Linked DNA regions of Homo sapiens: all the other regions are linked to region 4. Evidence: fine-mapped expression QTL. A gene starts in region 4. Each other region holds a variant in brackets. All regions are shown on one strand. Distances are between the middles of the regions.

Evidence for each region. PIP is the estimated chance that this variant, and not a neighbour inherited with it, causes the effect.
Region 1: its variant is fine-mapped to the expression of SH2D4B in thyroid (GTEx, PIP 0.93).
Region 2: its variant is fine-mapped to the expression of SH2D4B in whole blood (TOPMed, PIP above 0.99).
Region 3: its variant is fine-mapped to the expression of SH2D4B in lung (TOPMed, PIP above 0.99).

The regions. Positions count from the first base shown.
Region 1 is chr10:80,608,650-80,613,801 of GRCh38, reverse strand. SH2D4B (SH2 domain containing 4B) reads right to left here. Exons shown (of 8, transcript NM_001388272.1): 6 at 4,251-4,378. Among named protein-coding and RNA genes, the nearest start is that of LINC02655, 39 kb to the left of the region's middle. The variant C/T (reference allele first, on the strand shown) is at 2,246.
Region 2 is chr10:80,626,376-80,631,527 of GRCh38, reverse strand. All of the region lies in intron 6 of SH2D4B (SH2 domain containing 4B), which reads right to left. It overlaps LOC105378387 (a long non-coding RNA gene), which reads left to right. Exons shown (of 2, transcript XR_946132.1): 2 at 1,435-1,842. Among named protein-coding and RNA genes, the nearest start is that of LINC02655, 21 kb to the left of the region's middle. The variant G/A (reference allele first, on the strand shown) is at 2,301.
Region 3 is chr10:80,577,529-80,582,680 of GRCh38, reverse strand. The region is part of intron 3 of SH2D4B (SH2 domain containing 4B); the gene reads right to left. Among named protein-coding and RNA genes, the nearest start is that of SH2D4B, 42 kb to the right of the region's middle. The variant A/G (reference allele first, on the strand shown) is at 3,152.
Region 4 is chr10:80,535,920-80,541,039 of GRCh38, reverse strand. It overlaps SH2D4B (SH2 domain containing 4B), which reads right to left and starts at 3,138. Exons shown (of 8, transcript NM_001388272.1): 1 at 2,525-3,138. The coding sequence starts at 2,708. TSPAN14-AS1 (TSPAN14 antisense RNA 1) reads left to right here and starts at 5,098. Exons shown (of 2, transcript NR_120661.1): 1 at 5,098-5,120. RefSeq lists enhancers at 78-257, 1,295-1,434, 4,741-4,840 and a silencer at 4,911-5,100.

The sequences.
Region 1 (5,152 bases), 73 kb before region 4:
GGGAAGAAGTGTCCATTCTACTTTGGAGCTCTCGCATCTCATAAGAAAGCTGCCCCTCACTGCTGGGATCCCTGCACTGTCTACATGGCTGGGGAGTATCCTCCTCCCAGGTGGGGTCCCCCGTTTGTGCTTGCTCACGAAGAAGCATGCCAGTAACACCCTACAGAGGACAGCCAAAGGCCCACCCAAGCCCAGGTGAGGCCACGCTTGAGATCCACTCCCAGCACCTGAGCAGGGTCACATGGAGATAATTTACCAATGCCAATGATGTCACCCACCGGGTAGTCCCATTCTGTGCCAAGCCCTATGGGCAAGCAGCAAGGCAGCCAATGGGTTGTCACCCAGACAATAAATCATAGACCACATTGTGACTGTTTTTGTAGAAGTAAAGCTCAGGAAGAGAAATGGGTTCTGACTGAGCCAATGTTCAGACAGAGAACATTCTTAATAATTTTAGATACATGTCGAATTTTGAAAATACCTTTTTCCCCAAAGCCAAGGTTATATGTACTAGCATTTCTCACAAGTAGTTTGATATAACTACAATCTCTCTCCCAATTCCTGGAACATAACAATGAACAAAGGAGAAACAAGGAATTACTATCACTCTTTGTAACCCAGGAGACTCTACCTAGAACCCTGTGGTCCCAGAGAAAAGCCTGTTCCCAGTCCCCTCTCACTCTGCACTCTGTGCCCATTTCCCCAAACCTGATTTCCCAAAGGAGCCTCTGGTGGTTGACCCCAGATCCCAGGAAACATCAGGAAACACACTGGCATGGCTTTTTATGGTGGACAAAGCACTCCTGTTGGCTCAATCTTCGTAAGTGTCCTGTGAAGTAGATGTTACAATGCCAGTTTCACAGATGGGGAATTTAAAGGACACATCCAAGGTCTCAGAGCCGCTAAGTTCTAGAATGGACCCCATATCTTCAGATTCTTTGTCTATTTGCTGTTTGGATAACACTGGCACAAATCCACATGTGTTTGAGGAAAGGGAAGGAAATCATTCGAGTAGTCATGTTTAACCTGCATATGAAATCTAACTGAATTAACTAAGACTCTTTTATCTGGGAAAGAAAAGATTTGTATTGGGATTCTGACAGATTATATTATTGGCTCAAATTCTTCTTCCCTCTCTGTTGCCACACCCTTTGACATAGGACTCTGCAGTTCCTCGTAAGAAAAAGACAGAATATATTTTCCCATTCCTCAGCTCTGTGAGGTACAAGGCAAAGTGACAAGGTGCTGGCTCTAAGAATAGGGCTCAAGAGCCTGGCATGCTTCCAGTTGCTCTCTGATGTCTGTCCTGTCACCATGAGAAGAGCATGCCTGAGCTGGCCCACTGGTCCCAGAAGAGTGTAATAGATCCATGGTGCAGAGATGCCCCAGCTGAGACGCCCAACCAAGCCCAGGGAGAGCCGAGTCCCCTGCCAACCTGCAGCAAAAACTCCTTAACAAATTAGACTGGTGCAGGCCACCTGCCTCTGTAGGAATTGGTACAGAGGAAGTCCTAGCCCCTCCACCAGGGAATTCCTATATTGAAAGAGAAGTGGGAACACACTCACTGTTCCAGACTTTGGGATTTTATAAGTGAGTAAAGTTGAAAAAAAAAAAAAAAAGCAGGAGTGGGGGAGGTCCCGGGCTGCTAACTTTTTACTTTTTCAAGCAAAGGCAATATATAAAAATAACCATGACTTACTATCCCATCAATTCATAAAAGATAGGACATTTTAACACTAAAACTGAGGAAAGGATATAATCTTAGAATATGACACAGTCCTTTCTAAGCAAAGTTACTTGGCCACCCTCCATATGTGAGCCTTTTTCTTTCCTTCTGTCACAGATCAGTGAAAATTCTGTCACAAAATAGCTCCAGCCTGTGTAACAGCAACTTTTCTGCATGCTTTATGGTAGAACTGTCAGAACATGAAATTAGCTACATAAATTGTGAGACTTAAATCTTGGTTCTGTTTGTTCTGTGACAATATAAAAGTTACCTTTTAAAAAAAAAAAAAGTCAAAAAAGAAAACAAAGCTAAAAATAATTTGAGCACCTTGGTCGCACCTTCTCCACTGGCTGCCAAAGGCAGTTGGAGCACCCGGCACAGCTGCCCACTCTCACCCACGTGCCACTCCTGAGTTACACTCCACAGCTCCCTAAGATGCCAGTGCTGCACTTCCATGACCATAGTAACGTCTGAAGAAAAAGCACAGTGGTGACTTAAATGGAAGTTCTACCGGGGCTA[C/T]AGGGACACATAACTGGGACAGAAGGGAGAGGCAGAGAATCCCCAGCACCAGCTCCAGGGACACATGGCTCAGTCAGCCATGAGTGCTGTCTTCTCTCTGAGCCCTAAAGAGCCAGTCCAACCTTCTGCCAGATGTGTGGTGACCTGGGAGAAGAAAGAGGTCTGAAAGTGGACGGTGGTCATAACAGACTAGATTATCCTTCGAAACTATCCACTGTACCATGGACGCCACATTGGTTCTGGCTAACAGAATGTGAGCAACAACTTGACGTGTCAGTTTCCTGCAAAAGCTTTAGGAGCCAATGTGTGGTTCTCCAAGTCTCTCATTTCCCTCTGTCATGAGATCATCAATGTTTTTTTTTTTTTTTTTTTTTTTTTTTTGAGACTGAGTCTCGCTCTGGTTGCCCAGGCTGGAGTACAATGTTGCAATCTCGGCTCTCTGCAACCTCTGCCTCCCAGATTCAAGCAATTCTCCTGCCTCAGCCTCCTGAGTACCTGGGATGACAGGGGCCTGCCACCACACCTGGCTAATTTTTTAAAATATTTTTAGTAGAGACAAGCTTTCATCATGTTGGCCAGGCTGGTTTCAAACTCCTGACCTCAAGTGATCCTCCTGCCTCAGCCTCCCAAAGTGCTAGGATTACAGGCGTGAGCCACTGCGCCTGACTAACCATCAGCGTTTTAAATAGAGGCAGCTCCTTCAGGCTGAGGCGCAGACTAAAGTCTGAACCAACTCCCAAAGGGCACGTAACATGTGTAAGAAATAAACCTTGACTGGTGGGGGTCACTGAGACTTCAGAAGCATTTGTGACCGAGGTATATCCAATCTGACCAACATGACACGGATGCTATTCATTGGGTTGGAGAGCTCAACAGCAGTGGCAACAGAGGAAGATGGCAAGCTCATCTTGGAGGTATTTCTGTACTTGGTCCCTGGGTGAGAGGCAGGGGTGAGGGCTGAATACAGAGAGGCCTAATACATAGGTCCCTGACCTCACCAAGCATTAAGACCACCTGGGAAGGCTCATCTGACCCTCACATGTGTGGCTCTGGATTTTCAATGCAGAGAAGCAAGGGCTGTTCTTCGGAACTGTAAAGCCTGGGATCTAATCCCAATCCAAACATTTTCTTCCCACCTTCATCCATTCTTCCCATGGATACTTACTGAGCCAGGCACAGGGAAAACAAGCAAGCTCCTTAACCTCACAGGCTCACATTCAGGTGGGAGGACAGACAATAAGTAAATCTGATAAATACCAACTGGGCACACTCTGTCCAGGAAATGAGCAGGGTGAGCTGAGGGACACTGGGGAAGGCTGCTGTAGGTAAGGAGTTCAGGAAAGGCCTTTCTGAGGAGGGGATGTTTGAGATGGAAAATGAGAATGTGCCAGCCATGCAAAGAGCTGCTGGAAGACAGAAAATGTGAGCAGAGCCACGGCAAGCACAAAAGGTCTGAGATGGGAAAGAGGATGGCTTGTTTGAGGGACAGGAAAAAGGCCAGAGCTTTGGAAACAAGGTGAGCAAGGAGGGACTTTCAAGGAGCCACCCTGCCCTAACAGTCTATGTTTGGGTGACACTGACCTCTTCATTCAGCCATCTGTCATCTAATCAACAAGTATGTACCCAGAGCCTACAGTGTGACAGGCTGTGGCCAGGATCCAGGGATGGGGGTCCTAGCCACCAGCAGCTCATGCAACTCTCAGGGCTCACTGTCTTATGACCACAAAGAAGATGCCTCTGAGGGGCCCTTGGTGGCTACAGAGGCTGTGAGGTGACAGCAGTGGGCGAGAGCCATGTTCATCCCTTCCCAGAAGAGTTGGGAGGCCCGTTCAGCATCCCTGGGGCCTGCAGCCTCCTGGACTCCCACTGGGAGAGGGACAGAATGGAGATTGCTTAAAGTCCTCTGCCCCCTGATTATAACTGTCCTTCAGCACCCCTCCCCAACCCCAGAGAGAGGCAAAGATGTGGAAATCATCTGGCACAGGGCCCAGAAAAATGGTGCTACCATGGAACCAGGGGGCGATGAACTTGGTGTTCCTCTCGAAGCCAGCTCGGCGAGGCAGCTGCTCCTCCTTAAACCAGCGGACGATGACATCTCTGGAGACTGGGCGCAGCGGGCGCTCCCAGGTCCTGCTGAAGAGAAAGAAAGTGGGGAGGGCAGAAGAGTCAGGGAGGGAGAAAGAGCGGAGGGAGAGGAAGGCAGAGGGGAAGGAAAGAGGAAGGGAGAGGAAGGTAAAAGGAGGAGGAGGAAGGGGGGGTGGAAGAAGGGGCAGGGGAGGGCCATGAGAGAATGAATATGCTAAGCATGGTGCCCATATCCATGCCTACAAAGAGGATTAAAACAGCCCAGGTACTCGAAGGCATTTTGCAGATTATAATGTACCATCTGTTATTATTTATTTAAAAGAAAACTGTTACCGATTGCTTCAAAAAACAGCCACACAGGTGAGAATGAAAAGAGGCTAGGAGGGGGTGTCTGAGGGAAAGAAAAGGCACATTTTCCCTCGAGCACGGCCAGGGCATAAATACCAGCATGGATGAAGGAGGCTCCTGACGGAAAGTAAATGAGCGTGTCTCATCCCCTTCTCTCTCTCAGAAACAATTCTGGGTCTTGTCCCCTCCTTAGCTCTCCCTCCCCGCCCTCTGAGGGGACGCCTGCCTGTGCCACAACTCCTGCGCTTTTGTAAGGCAGAACCAGGGCAGTGAACAGAGAGAGAAGCTGGAGAACCTCAATTTGCTCTGGAAATGGCTGAGATTCCCTGCCCAGAAAATAAAAACTATGACAGAGGATACGGAGGCGGAAGGAAACAAAACCACACGTTGGTAACTACGGATGGAATGGGTGAGGGACTGAAGGCACGGAGGGCGGGAGGAGGAGGAGCACGGGAAGAGTTTAGACGAGGGAGT
Region 2 (5,152 bases), 90 kb before region 4:
CCTATAATACCAGCACTTTAGTAGGCCAAGGTGGGAGGATCGCTTGAGCCCAGGAATTCAAAACCAGCCTGGGCAACATAGCAAGGCCCTGAATCTACAAAAACATAAAAAATTAGTTGGGCATGGTGGCACATGCCTGTGGTCCCAGCTACTCAAGAGGCTGAGGTGAGAGAATCACATGAGCCCAGGAATTCAAGGCTGCAGTGAGCTATGATCATGCCACTATACTCTAGCCTGGAAAACAGAGCAAGGCTCTATTTCAAAAATACATTAATAAATAAACAAACACTTCCATTGATTCCCTATCTTGGCTATTGTGAATAATGCTACAATCAACATGGCAGTATAGATATCTCTTCGACATACTGATTTCATATCCTTTGAATAAATACCCAGTAATGGGGTTGCTGAGATTATGGGGTACTTCTATTTTAATTTGTATTTTCATGCTTTAAGAGAATGTGCAAGGGGTCTCTTTCCTCCAACACTTGCCAACACGTTATTTTGTGGACTTGACTTTTAACATGCCAAAACGACCAGTAATACCAAAGTGACGATGTTATGTGTCTCACCCACCTAAAACCCTTGAGCAGCTTCCCCTGACTTCCAGCAGAGCCCAGGCTCAGGCACAGCAGACAGCAGGCTCTATGCCCCGCCTCAACCTACCCCTCTGGGCTCATCGCACTGTTTGGTACTGGCTGCTCCCCACAAGCCGACCTTGGACTGAGGCCACATCCCAGCCCCCTTCACTCCAGCTGACCCTGACTCCTCATTGAAAGCCCCATCCTCTTCTCTCCCCAGAATCATGGGCTATGGGCAGCCTACACTCTACCTTTGTGCAAGTTAGGAAAAGATGACCTGAGTAACTGAATTAGAAAAATGTGCCTCTCTGGGCCAAAACCACAAAGCCTATAGCTTGATTGGGAAAGGCAGTGCCTGCACATCAATCCTCTGTTCTCCCCAACTATCCCCACCCCTCAGGTCCCCCAGTTCAGTGTGCAACCTGCTCAGCTGATCAGGAAATCCTTTATCTCCCAGGAGACTGTCTTGGATATCCCACATTTGGGTTTTCACAACATCCTGCCAAAACCCCACAGTAGATTAGTAAATAGGCTATGAGCCGCTCAAGGCTGGGGCCTGTGGCTGCCATGGGAGCAAGCAGCCCAGGCCTCCCTCCAAGACAGAGACCTGTTGCTGGGAGCAGCATCATGCCCTTCAGGATCCTCCATGGGGTCATGTTCTCCCTAGGGTGCTTCCAGTCAAGGGCAGGGCACAGGGGTACTAGAGCCACCATTCCTACCCAAAGCAAGATTCCTCTAGCAGGCAGTCTTTGCTCTGGGGCTCTCAATCAGCCTGGCCAAGATTTTTCTCTGAGCTGTACTCCAGGAGCAGGCTCACTTACCAATCATCCTTCTTCCCTCTCTCCCTCCACAGGTGTCAGATGTGTACCGTGTTCTGAAGACTCTCCCCACCTTCTCCAGCACCCTCCCCCTTTGTCCTTCACAGGCATTTCCTCCAATCAGTCTTTCGTCTTCTGCTTCATGGAAGACCTGACGGACACAGACAACTCATCTTTACATCCTCCATGCCTGGGACATTGGCAGGGATTCTGCAGCAGTGATGAAGAGCATGGACACAAATCATAACCCGGGACTTGTTCCATGGGTAGCCTTGAGAGCAGGTGACTTCAACCTCTCTGAAACCGAGTTTGAGGTCCTCATCTATTAAGTGGTATTGATATTAATAGCTATGTCTTACGGCTGTTTGAGAATGAATAAGTTAATGCATGAATACGTTTAGCACAGTGCTTAAAAATCACAATAAATATCTAATACAATATAACTAGCTGCATTGGATGCACTAAGTATTCTACACATGTGTTAGTGCTGCAAACTGCCTGGTGCTGGTAGCTGCAATGGTCACAGGACTGTCAGGCTGTGTCCCCCACCACAACCCCTGACACACACACACTCAATTCTCTCAAACATAGGCTGCTGAAGGTGACTTCAGCACCATAAACTTAGCTGGGCCATTTCTGGGAGACTGTCTAGGTCTCTGTGAATTCTGCCTCCTTTTTGATATTGCTGATATAGTTTGGATGTGTGTCCCCTCTAAATCTCATGTTGAATTATCATCTGCAGTGTTGGAGGTAGGGCTAGTGGGAGGTGATTTCTCACAAATGGTTTAGCACCATCTCCTTGATGCCATCCTCAGGATAGTGAGTGAGTTCTTGTGAGATCTGGTTGTTTAAAAGTCTGTAGGATCTTCCCCCTCACTCTCTCTCTCTTGCATCCCCTCTC[G/A]CCATGTGATATGCTGGCTTCCCCTTTGCCTTCCACCATGGATAGGAAGCTTCCTGAGGCCTCATTGGAAGCCGAGCAGATGCTAGGGCCATATTTCCTGTACAGCCTATAGAACTGGGAGTCTATTAAACCTCTTTTCTATATATTAGTAAGTTACCCAGTCTTGGGTATTTCTTTTTCTTTTTCTTTTTTTTTTTTGAGATAGAGTCTCGCTCTGTCACCCAGGCTGGGGTGCAGTGACACGATCTCGGCTCACTGCAACCTCCACCTCCCAGATTCAAGCAATTCTCCTGCCTCAGGCTCCTGAGTAGCTGGGATTACAGGCATGCGCCACTATGCCTGGCTAATTTTTGTATTTTTAGTAGAGACGGGCTTTCACCATGTTGGTCAAGCTGGTGGTGGTCAAACTCCTGACCTCATGATCCACCCGCCTCAGCTTCCCAAAGTGCTGGGATTACAGGCATGAGCCACCACGCCTGGCCAGGTATTTCTTTATAGCAATGCAAGAATGGCCTAATACATTTGCCTAGAAATCAAAATTGCAATTTGGCACAAAACCAAAGGTAATATAACCTCATAGTTCAGGATAGCAAACAGCATTCCATAGAAAACCCAACCCCTCAAGAGAATTAGCATAGGATGCTTGCAAGGAGAATCTATGTTTTCCTTCCCCATTCACTTTGCCCTCTGTATAAGTCCGTTTTCATGCTCCTGATAAAGACATACTTGAGACTAGGCAATTTAAAAAAGTTTATCGAACTTACAGTTCCACATGGCTGGGGAGGCCTCACAATCATGGCAGAAGGCAAGGAGGAACAACTCACATCTTACGTGGATGGCAGCAGGCAAAAAGAGGAGCTTCTGTGGGGAACCTCCCCCTTATAATACCAACAGATCTCATGAGACTTATTTGCTATCACGAGAATAGCACAGGAAAGACCTGCTTCCATTACTCAAATTACCTCCCACTGGGTCCCTCCCGAACACGTGGGAATTCAAGATGAAATTTGGGTGGGGACACAGCAAAACCATATCACCCTCTGATCTCTCTCTCCCCCTGGATTGCCTCTCAGCCAACTACAGAGGGTCTGGGAATTAAGCATGAATCATCACCCACCTCTGCTTCTTCTGAGCACCCTACAACCTCCTGGCTGAGGAAACAGGGGAAGGCCCTACCTCACCCCTTCCAGCTGGGGAGCTAGCATACTGTCCGAGTCCTTGAAACTTCCTCACTCTGCTAATGACTGGGCCTGGCTAAGGGATGCAGCCTAACCAGCCAACGCTCCAGGGTGACAATTTTAGAATGAATATTGGAGAATGCAACTGAAGATTGATTCTGAGCCAGTTCTCATTCCCAGACAATGGTAAACATTGTTTTTCCTATAGTTTCCAGGAACATTTTCTCTCCCCGCTTCCTTCCTTTTCTTCCTTTTCTTCTTCCTCCCTTTAATAAATATGTATGAAGCACCATCTAGAAGCCGGGCCCCAAACTTGGCACCTGGGAGTCAGCAGTGAATGAGACACAGTTCTTGCCTTCTAGAAGCTCTGACTCTGGACAGAAATGAAGATTGATGGGAATTTTGTAATATAAAAATAAAAGGCTAACTGTGAGCAATGGTGATAAAGGCCACATAAGCTATTGGCTCAGGCACTGTGGCTGCACCTAAGGGAGGCACCCCACCCAGTTCTGGAGCCCAGCGGCGGAAGTGATGTTTAGACTGAGTCCAGAAAGGGACAAGAGGGGGCAAGGCAAGGAGGGAAGATTGCAAAAGTCATTAGCAAGTGGCTCTTTGTGGCTGGAGGGAGGGCTAAGCTGGGAGCTGGGCAATGGCCAGAGGTGTACGATAGGCAGCAGTCAAGCTCCAAAGGGCTCTCCATACCACTGAAAGGATTAATTCTGAGGGCAGCGGACAGCCACTGATGTTTCCTATACAGAAGAAAGATATAAGAATGTTCAAGTGTGGAAAATGGATTGAAGGATTACGGTTCAGAGCCAAGGATTTCAGCTCAGTGAGGGCTTCCTCACTTAAGAATTGCTTCATGGCTACATTTCACAGTGTACCATTGATATCTGGCTCTCTGACCCCTACCCTCCCAGAAATGGCTTCCATTTTGACGCACAGAGGTTAAACGACACACTCAGGCTCCTGTGAGACGCTTATGTCACAGCCAGCATTAGGCACGATCTGGGGCCTCTGTGACCCTTCTCCTTTGGTCTTCCTATCAACCCTGTTATAACCAGTTCACAACTGAGGACACTGAATGTCAGGAAAAGAAGGGATTCACCCAAAGTCACAGGGCTTAATAGTCACAGAGAATCTATTAAGTGGTGGAGGCAGATCTGAACTCAGGTCCTCGGACTCCAAGTCCAGTGCTCTCTCTGTTCTATACCATGTTGTCTCATGCAAAGGATGGTAAATGCTGTGAAATAAACAAGAAGGAAGAGGTTGAGAAATCAGGGAAGGCTCTGTGGAGGCACTGAATGGGAATGTGAGGTGGGCCTTGAAGGCCAGATAGATTCTGTGTAAGCAGTGAGGGGTAGTAATGAGGTGTGAGGGAGAGAAGGGACAAGATGAGTGAAAAGTCAGAATGAAGACCAGGCATGACACACCCATGGGGCATTTATATAAATCTAACATGAGAGAAGCTTAATCTAAATCTCAGGAGGTTAAGACACATGGCAGATGGAATGGGAAGTCTAACATATATAGAATCCGAGTCCCACAGGAGAGGAGAGGAGGCAATATTTTAAGAGTGAATAGTTAACAATTATCACAGACACATACTATAAAACTATGCAAAGATATTCCATTCTTCTTTTGTCAACCAGACAGAAAATGCAAATCACTACA
Region 3 (5,152 bases), 42 kb before region 4:
GGCAGGTGGTGTTGTCCAGGTAAGGTGCCCCAGGCCCAGAATAGGTTCTACATGAGCCCGACTCCCTGTTTCTTTCCTTCAGGGTGCTCTCTGACCATATCCCTCATCAAGAGATTGAGCAGATATCCCAAGGAACTCCAGGATTCCTATTTATGAAGTCACCCTGGGCCCCAGTGCGGGGGTCCTGGTTCCAGAAGGGTAGCCTAGCAACCAGATGAAGCCCTTGCCAGCACAGTATTTTTAGCAGAGGATCACATGAGATTGGGTCACCAGAATAGTGCTAAAAGGCTGATTTTATGTGACTCGGATTTTTAATATAAACAAAGACTGCACAAAGAAATATTTGCCAACTCTGTACACCCTAGGGGCAACCCTGGCTGCAGGTCCCACCATTCAGAATTCAGACCTTTCCTTAATCTCCCCGTTTCCCTCCTGCTCCCTTCACTCTGCCTGATACCCCAACACCCCAGCGTTTCCCTTTCAACTTTCCCTCTTCTTCTGGCCAGAGGGAGGGAGGTGGTAGCCTGGAAAAAACAGATGAAAAAGTATTTGGTGAACAATTAGAAGAAGTCACTTACCTTCTTTAGCCCTTAATTCCCAACTCTTAGAGAGTGGGTCATAAGGAAATCGGAATTTTGTCTACTTTTAGCATTAAAAAATTAATCATTGAATTGGAGAAAAGTCCCCAGTCTATGTCAGGTCAGAAGGAACAAAAATCTTGTCATTTTTAAAACAAAGGAGTAAAAATGCACAGTTATCTCCTTTTATCTGCTTGTTGATCTATTGAAGTATACCAAAGGACCCACCCCTGACCCACTGGGGTCTTCCAGGCAGGAGCAGGTGTCAGGAAGAATACAGTCAAGGCCTGTCAGAGCCAGAGGGACATCAACTGCATGCTGCCACTTCCTTGTGCAGATAAGGAGTGTATCAATTTGCTCAGGCCGCCATAACGAAGTACCACAGATTGAGGAGGCTTAAATGACAGAACTCTATTTCCTCAATCATGGAGGCTGCAATCCAAAGTCAAGGTGTGGCAGGGTTGGCTTCGTGCTGAGGCCCTTCTCCTTGGCTGGCTGCCTTCTTGCTGTGTCACTCACAGCCTTCCCTCTGAGTGTGTGCCCGTCTGTGTCCAAATCTCCCTTTTTATAAGGACAGCAGTCATATTGGAGTAGGGTCTAACCCACTCGATCTCATTTTAACTGAATTACCTGTGTAAAGAGCTTATCTCCAAATATAGTTACATTCTGAGGTCCCGGGGATTAGGACTTCAAAATACGGATTTTAGCAGGGACATAATTCAGCCCATAACAAGGAGATTGGAGCCCAGGAAATGACTGGCACACAGTGGATAAGTGTCTGACTGGCCTATGGTGGATAAGTGGCCCTTAACCACCTCAGATTACAATGCAATGTTCCTACTTCAACTGGCTGTGACTAAAAGGAAGCAGCAAGTTAAATTGTAGGGCCATGTTCAATCAGTTCTTCTTCACCTGGAGAGTAGGACACCACCCAGGGAACCAGAGGCCTACAGCAACCGCCCATCTCAGAGGAAAATGACTGGCCATTTACTGTGATAAAGGAAAGCTCTTCACAAGGATGGGGACGACAAAGGAAAACATTTTGCAACTACTGTTGCATTACACATGGTCTTGCTAAAATAACGCTCAAAGCTGAAATTGCCTAAAAATTCTCATTGCTGTTGCAACTACCAGAATTCTCTGAGCCATCTAATACCACTGAAAGAAAAGCCCATTTTTCTGAGGTTTAGCAGCCAAAAGGCCAGACACGCAAAGACTCCCCTGCTGCCTAGGAATTAATCGCCTTGCTCTGGCTGCCCAAAGCCCTCTGAGCTGTCCAGCTTATTCAATCTCCCTTCTCCTCATAACCCATCAGTAACAGCACACCACAGGAACCCACAGAGGCCAGGGTCTGCCAGAATCCTGTGGAAAATGTCATCAAGACAAATGCCTTTTCTAGAAAGTGAAAAATTTTTTAAAATCCTAGGCCCCCTAAGCAATGGAACAGACCTTTTCTTGGCCAAGGGGACTCATGAGAAACTTTAAAAACTGAGTTCCCAGCCATGATGGGAGAGGAGATCAGACTTGCCTCAGTAACCACCATTAGGCTTTCTTCCCTAAGGACTAAATAGAAACCAGCCCTTTTGAAAGACTGATATCAACCAACAGCCTGATGCTGCCCCTCCCTTTTCATGGTTTTGACACAACAACTGACCAGCCTTCCTTCCTGATAAGAGACCACCGACCACAGAGTAGTTCTGGCCAGTCTACAGAGGATGTACCCTAAGGGCCTTCACGCCCTCTGCTTTGCCTTTTGATGTATAGGGTCTAATTGTAATATGTAGACTCAGCTAACCTGGTCAGCATAAACTCCTGTCTCATTCTTCCCTGCCTCAAAGTGCCTGCTACCAGCTTCTGACCAGAAGCTGGGCTTCCCAGCCTGTCAAAATAGCCACCTGCAGGCTGCAACCCTTTAGGAGATATAAAGCTCCCCTTTCCAAATTTATGAACCTCATCATTTTTCAGGTGACAAAGGCATCCTCATTTTTGTTGTTAGTCTGGCCCCAATAACACCACAGTGAGCTGAAGCACTCCAAAAAAGCAGAACCAAACCTATGCTGTTCATTCCTCCATTGCCAGTTCACAGCACAGGACATAGCAGATATCAGGTGCTCCATAAATGCTGACCAGAGAAGTGAATGAGTTATCAAACAGGTAAAGAGAAGACAGGGTTTGTGATGATCCCCGGGAGGGACAGGGTACACCACATCATGTTGTTTTGTCGGCGTCAGCCTTGCCTAGAGAAGTTCTGGTAAAGTCTAAAATTTTCAAGAGAAAATTGAGAAGTAGAAAATTTTCCCACCACTTCTAATCTTATTGGAAATAAAGCAGTAATCGTTTCTAAAGTTGTATAGGAGTTCATTAGGTGGCCAAAAGGAACTCCAAACTTAAAGGAGAAAAAAAAAGGGAGTGGCCTTGAATAGAAAATGGAAAAAAAATTAATAAACAACTGAACAGAATCAACCATGTCTGTTCGTTAAGAGTAAAACCAGGAAGAGGTGGGAGTGGGAGGAGGGAGGGAGATTGCAAGCAGAGAAGGAAGGTCACAGGACCCCGGGGTGGAAGAAGAGCAC[A/G]GGATGTTTATTGAGCCGTGTTCTGTGGTCTTGAACAGAAGGAGAAATGTCCAGAAGCAATTTTAGGAGTTAAGAAAGCACGGGGGAAATAAATGCAAATTTTATCTGGCCTCAGGATCTCCTTTTTTCTAAAGGAACACTTTTATATGCATGTAAATTACATTCAAATGGCACCAGCCACAGCAGAATGGTTTTTAAAAACCGGTTTCCAGCTGTCTCATCTTCAGAGTTCCCTCTGTAACCCAATATAAAGATTCTGGGATTTTTTTTTCCATTTTCAGAATGCAGTTGTCATTATTACCTTTTCCATGACCTGGAGAATTAGCAGAACCTGCCTACATCCTCAACATGAGCTGCAGAAAGTGAGCCCAGCCCATCTCTCTCCATCACCAGGCTTTTCACCCAAGCTCTCACCTCTCCTCCAGCCTCCACCTATCTCCCTTCTCTGTGGGGTAAAAATCCCTCAATGCAGTCAATCTAAGCACTTTCTCTTTCCTGCAAATCTGCACACCCTCCCCAGCTCCCCATGGTGGGATGGTGCTGCCATCTCCTCATCTCCCAGCTTGGGACTTGGATGTCTTTGCTCTTTGCTTTCCCTCATCCCAACATCTAATTGATGCCAAGCCCTATTGATTTCACCACCACCATTTTGCTATATCCATCCCTTCTCTCCTTCCTCGTTGTCATAGACTCTGTCCAGACCCTTGCTCATTGGCCTTGACCATTGCAAAAATCTCCTAACTAGTCTCCTTGCCTGAAAACTCATCACTTGAATCACATCATTGCCATCAGTGGTGCTCCTAAAACTTCATCTGACCACATCCTTCTTTGTATCAAGATCCTGCTTTGCCCACAGAGGAAAGTCCACCCCCTTAATGTAGCATTTAAGAGCTTCACACCCTACCTCCTTTCCAGGCGTATGTCTGGCTCCATCCATCATGAACTTTTTCTCTCTCCTTCCAGCAGACCATTCATCATTCTACAGTTCTCCTTTCCATCTCTTGTGCTTGCTCATGCCCAGACCTCTAAAGTTACTCCTCTGCCCTCCATTATACTCCCCGGGGTGTGGTTGGCACTAAGGGTTGCTCATGGAGTTGTCTCTCTCTCCCCTGGCACCCTGTAAGCTTTTGAGAGCTGGTAGTTTATTTCTCCCCTCCTCCCCCACAACAAACAGCCTCCCCTTAGGTTCTCAGGAAAAAAAGAGAGTATTAAATGAAGGTTGTTGGTACATTCCTACAAGCAAGACTCAGAATGTTAGAACCCTACTGTTGAAAGACACAGTAAAAATTATCTCACTTTGGAAAGTTGACATGGGCGGATTGCTTGAGCTCAGAAATTCCAGATGAGCCTGGGCAACATGGCAAAACCCCATCGCTACAAAAAATACAAAAATTAGCCAGGTATGGTGGTGCATCCCTGTAGTCCCAGCTACTTGGGGGGCTGAAGTGGGACGATGGCTAGAGTCCAAGAGACGGAGGTTGCAGTGAGCTGAGATTGTGCCACTGCACTCTGGCCTGGGTAACAGAGCCGGACCCTGTCTCGAAAAAAAAAAAGAAAGAAAAAAAATTATCTAAGCCAATCTCTAACCCAATGCATAAATCCCTTGGTGAAGCTGTTTTTGGTTGTCTACTGCTGAGTAACAAATTACCAGAAAATTCAGTGGTCTAAGGCCAGGCGTGGTGGCTCACGCCTGTAATCTCAGCACTTTGGGAGGCCGAGGCAGGCAGATCACGAGGTCAGGAGATCGAGACCATCCTGGCTAACACGGTGAAACCCCGTCCCTACTAAAAATACAAAAAAAAAAGGCCGGGCGCTGTGGCTCACACCTGTAATCCCGGCGCTTTGGGAGGCTGAGGCGGGTGGATCGCAAGGTCAGGAGATCAAGACCATCCTGGCTAACATGGTGAAACCCCGTCTCTACTAAAAATACAAAAAATTAGCCGGGCGTGGTGGCAGGCACCTGTAGTCCCAGCTACTTGGGAGGCTGAGGCAGGAGAATGG
Region 4 (5,120 bases):
CTTCTCACTAACAGTTTCTTGCCTTTCCTATCATTCTGACTCATTCCCGAGTTCTTTCTCAAGACAGTTTCAAGAGCCTGGACATCAACTGGGGCTGGGGTCTCACCAGCATCTGGAGAGCCTCCTGAGTCCTCTGGCAACATCAAGGGAAGGAAGAGAAGATTCCTCCGTGGAGCCCGTCCCCGCACAATTCCCGCCCTGGGACACGGCACGGCTGCTTTGAACCAAGCCTCACCCTTGGCACTCGAGTTGGCTGTGTTCCCTATGATCCATCTACCCACCGTCTCCAGGACAAGCACTGCCCCATTCACTGAAATCAGCACATAGTAATGCTGGATAAGTGAATGAATTGGTGAATGAGTGAACAAGTGAATGTGTGCACAGCTCACTTGTTTAATTGGAGTTCCGAGTTTGGAAGTGAATGAACAGAAAAAAAATCAGTCACCAGACCCCAGATCCAAGTCATGAGATGTAGCAGCTGGATGACCTTGGATGTAGCGCATCACTTCTCTGAGCCTCACCTTCCTTATCTGCAATGAAATCAGGGAGCTTGCCCTGCCACCCCGCAGGGACACGGGAGCAGCAAGGGCTGGGTAGGCACCCAGTCAACGTAAAGCTCACAAGTTGTTGCCACCCTTCATCACGACCCCAGGACATGAAGCAGATACTGTATATCCTGGACCCTCCGGCCGAAAGCTCTTCCGGCTCCTGGGCAGGGCCAGCCCCCAGGCTCCCCAGTGGCATGCCCAGACAGTTCCAAAAGGCAGGACCGAAGCAAAGAGCCAGGATCCAAGCGGGATCCTGACCTGGGATACACACATTCCTCGGCGTGCTTTCCTGCTTTTCCATTCTTTATAAATCAGAAAATTAATTACCAGAAAAAGGATCTTCTGCACCAGAAACTCAAATGAGTTTAATGTATAATTTATACATGAAAATGTAGATGTCTATGTGTGACAAATCTCTGTATAAATATTTTTGCAGTTAAATTTTTAGGCATCTGTCTCCCTCCAAGAAGAGTCATCATGCAGGCATCATGAGTCCCCAGGGCTCAGGCCGGGTGGTGCTGGCAAGGTGGCTTGTCATTTCACCAGTTAGTGATGCAGCTGCCAGCGCAGCCCAGCCCGGAAGGCCCCAGCTTTGGCAGCAGCCACCTGCAGCCAAGTCACAGCTCTGCCCCAACCTCCCCGGCAGGGTCCTGCTGTGTCTTGTTCAAAACAAGGATTTAACACCATGTGCCACCTCTGTGCTGGGCCCAGGGGAGGAAGATAGAGTGGAGGAAGCCCTCACACACCAGTGCCTTTGAGCCCATCGGAGAGCCAGGCAAGCAGATGAGGAATGACAATGACAGGGTGGCAAATGCCAGGGCAGGCGTGGGTCCTACATGCCAGGCAGCCACAGAGGAGCAAGTACTGCCCTATGCAAGAGCATCCCTGAACACTCCAGGGCAGGGGGGCCACTCCTGATGGAGTCTGTCAGGTGGATGAAGGCAGAAGGACATTCCCAACGGTGAGAGCCACTCATGTGAAGACCAGAGACAAGAGCAAGCATGTCCAGATGATGTGGGTGTGGCCTGTGGCACCTGGTGGGGACTGGCCAGCAGTGAGCCTGGCATGGAGAAGAGCCAGATCACCAAGGGAGCTGTGTGCTCAGCCCTGAAACAGGACTTTGTTCTGGATTGAAAACTTCAAAGGGTGAAGGCACATAAGCCTTGCAAACTGTAAAGTGCATGCAGCATCCACAGAAACTACAATCCCTGGCAGGATTGAGTCCTGTGCCAAGCCAAGCCTCAGCAGCCTGCCAGTTTCTGGCCCAGGGGTCCTGGATGATTTCCTTCACCCACAGGTGTACCAGTCCATAGGATTGACTGGCACATGACTTTGCATACAAAACACCTGAAATGTAGGCTAGGCCCTTGCTTCTCATCTGCAGTTGCTACGACCATTTGGGGATGGTCATTCATTGTGTGGGACGTTCCCTGATGCCCTCTCTCCGGATGCCCAGTGGGGCTCCAGAGACAACCCACAGCATCCTCCTGCCGGAGGATCTGGAGGGAGAGGCACAGTCCACAGAAGGGGCCCTAGCCAAGAACTGGTGTGCCACGCATGCCAAGGAGAAAGGAACTGCATATCTACACCACACTCTGGCCCAGAACCAATGGCAAGGGTCACAAATATGCCGTCGTTCACCCTACCATTGCCAACCACGTCGGAGCACAATCTGAAGTCTCAATGGTGTCTTCCCAGAACTCGGGCCTTCCACAACAAGACAAAGCAAGTCCCAACTCCCCGACTCCAATAAGGGCCGCTGGACAGCCTCTGCAGCAGCCTCGAAGCCCTAAGGTCCTGGCCAAAAGGCAAAAGCACAGGCTCATGGGACCTGATGCCCACAAGACAAGGGTTTCAAGCCCCCAGCCCTCATCACCCCAGTGCCCATCTTGAAGAAGGGCACAGCCTGGCCCTGCTAATTTTTCTACCTCCTGGGGGACTGGTGGCCTACCTCTCTGTGACTCCCAGCCACGTACCTCGCTTGGTCTTTGGAGGCCTGAGACCCTCGTCCTGGGCCAGGGCCTCCCAAGTCTCCCGCTCCTTCCAGCGCCTCAGCTGCTCCTCCCGCATTTTGTAGAAGAGGATGTGCTTCTGCACATCGCTGAGCTCGGCAAGGAGCTCGGGGTCGATGTACATGTCGTGCAGGATCTGCTGCAGCATGATGCCACCTGGGATGCACGCACCAGAAGGGCAGCCAGCAGGGGAAGCAGGGCCAGGCAGAACGCCCGAGGGGCTGCTCTGCACTACGGACTGCTCAATCCGGGGCCACTCTCGGTGCCCCTTCTCTGTGCAGCATTGTCAGTTGGCCTCAGCTTGCAGCCAGCGACGAACTCATCTCCTCTACCCAGGACAGCAAAAGAGGCCAGGCAACAGGACCCAAAGGGGCAGGTGGGACTCTGCAAGGGGGAGCAACCACCAGGAGCAATCTAGTCCTTCTCCTGGGTCACCAAGCACGGCATCCCAGGAGAGCCCATGTCTTGGCATCACCTGGGGTTCTGAGACAATGGGAAGGGCCCAAGCCTCCAGCTCAGCCAGGAAATGCCCAGTCCCAGCCCTGCCTGGGCTGGTAGGTGTCGAGTGATCTGTTAGTGGAAGGTAACAATGACACCAGCTATATCAATGACACTGCCCCGGCCAGCTGGGAACTGATCTCTCCTCTGCAGATAAGAGGAGGAGAAGGAGGCAGACTTGCCTACTAAATTCCATGTCTTTTCAGCCAATTTCAAACACAGACCAGAGGAGCCTGCCAGAAGCTGCTGGGCCCCTCAGCCCTCTCAGCCCCTCTCTCTGCGGGTTCCTTCGCTGCCAACTTTCTTCCTTTCCAGAACATTTGGCATTCTGAGATGATGCGTTTAAAACTCTGCCTTGGGGGAGGAAAGATTTTTCCTCCTATCTGTGTTACAGCCAAGAAAGAAAACAAAATGGAATCAGTAGAGACAACTGGAGGGGATTTTATCTTGGAATTCCAGGACAGAAAGGAAGCAGACATCCTTTCCCTTTGGCCTATATATAATGAGATCCTGCAGCCATGCGTGGCTGACAGATAAACCCTCCAGGGGCCAGTTTTAATGGTCGTTGTTAATCTTGTTTGTTGCAGATGCCTGGAGTTGACCAAAAAGAAAGAAGATGAAACTGGCTCTTCTCTGTGCCCTGATCAGAAGCACACTGGAATGGCGGGATGTTGCCTTCTGCTGGGAGGGAAGCCACCCTCTCTTTGGTGTGTGAAGGTGGGTAGAAGCTGCCGTTGCTGAGATCTTTAGGGTGAAAGCTCACCCTAAATATGTGCTCAGAGCAAATCACAGATGCCTTCTTATTGGGACAAGGATATTGAAGCTCAGAGAAAGTAAGTGGCTTGCCTATGGCTTCCTAATGGACAAGTCACTGTATTGGGACTCCCCCGTTTTGAAATTTGACATCCACTAGCAACTATGAATCTGTTGATGGTTTGAAAACATAACCCAACCAAGGGAAAACAAACGAACCAACAGGATTTGGCACTGTGGCTTGGTTGGATTGGTGACCTTCCTGTCCCCTTCCTTGCCCATGAGGGTGGAAGGTGGATCAGGTACCCAAGAGTGATGGAAGAGGGGTGGAGAGTTGGCATTCTTCCCCCTCTGCAAGGTTAACACAACAGGAAGATGGACTAAGCAGATTCAGATGAGCTGTAAGCCCATAGGGTCAAAGCTCCTGCTCAGCTAGGCAATGTCCAGGTCACAGGAGTGGAGTCAGACGCCCCACCCCTCCCCACCCAGGTCCAGCTAGCTGGTCCCAGTGTGCCCAGACCTTCCTAGAGCCGCCACAGGACTCGCCTGTCCGCTGCAGAGCTGTGGCCCTGGACTCCCATCCACCCACCTCAGGGCTTGCACCGACTCCCCCACCGGGAGTCCTGGCTCCCCTCAGTTTCTGAGACCGGGGGTCTTCCCTAGCCTCTGCCCAGCTATTCTCTTTCTCCCCCTCGCCGTGGCTGGTGGGAGACCCCCGAGTCCAAAGAGGAGACAAGGGGAGGAAGGCCCCCAGGGTCTGGGCTCCTGCGGGCAGCTTCTTTTTGTCTTTCCCGGGCCGCCAGATACCTACGACCACAAGAGGGCACGGGGCAGGGACAACGCTGTAGGGAGCAGCAGGAATGGGCCGGCTGGAGGCGGGCGAGAACGGTGATGGTGCCACCCTGGAGGACCGTCGGGAGAGTGAGGCAGCCGGACTAGAATGACCCCCGCTAGCGCCCATTTTGTGCGATAGAGGGGATCTCGCTGGGGGCGGGGTGATCCCTGGCACTCCCAGGTCAGCGGGGCAGGAGGCCAAGAGACACCGAATCGCGGGGACGTGAGCGTCACCCAGCCGCGGATGGCAGCCCGGGAGCGGGTGAAGTCCGGTTTCCGGGAAGACGTGCTTCGGGGCCCGCCTATCAATTCTCCTGGGCCTGGCGGGGTGGAGGGCGGGGGACTCGGCCAGGCCTGGGGCGCTCCCTGGCGGCCGCACGGGGAGGCACTCGGCTTCGCAACCTGGGTGTGCCTGGCCTGGGTGTGCGGGAGGACCCCAGAGGACCCCAGAGGACCCCAGGAGCAGGGGTCGCGC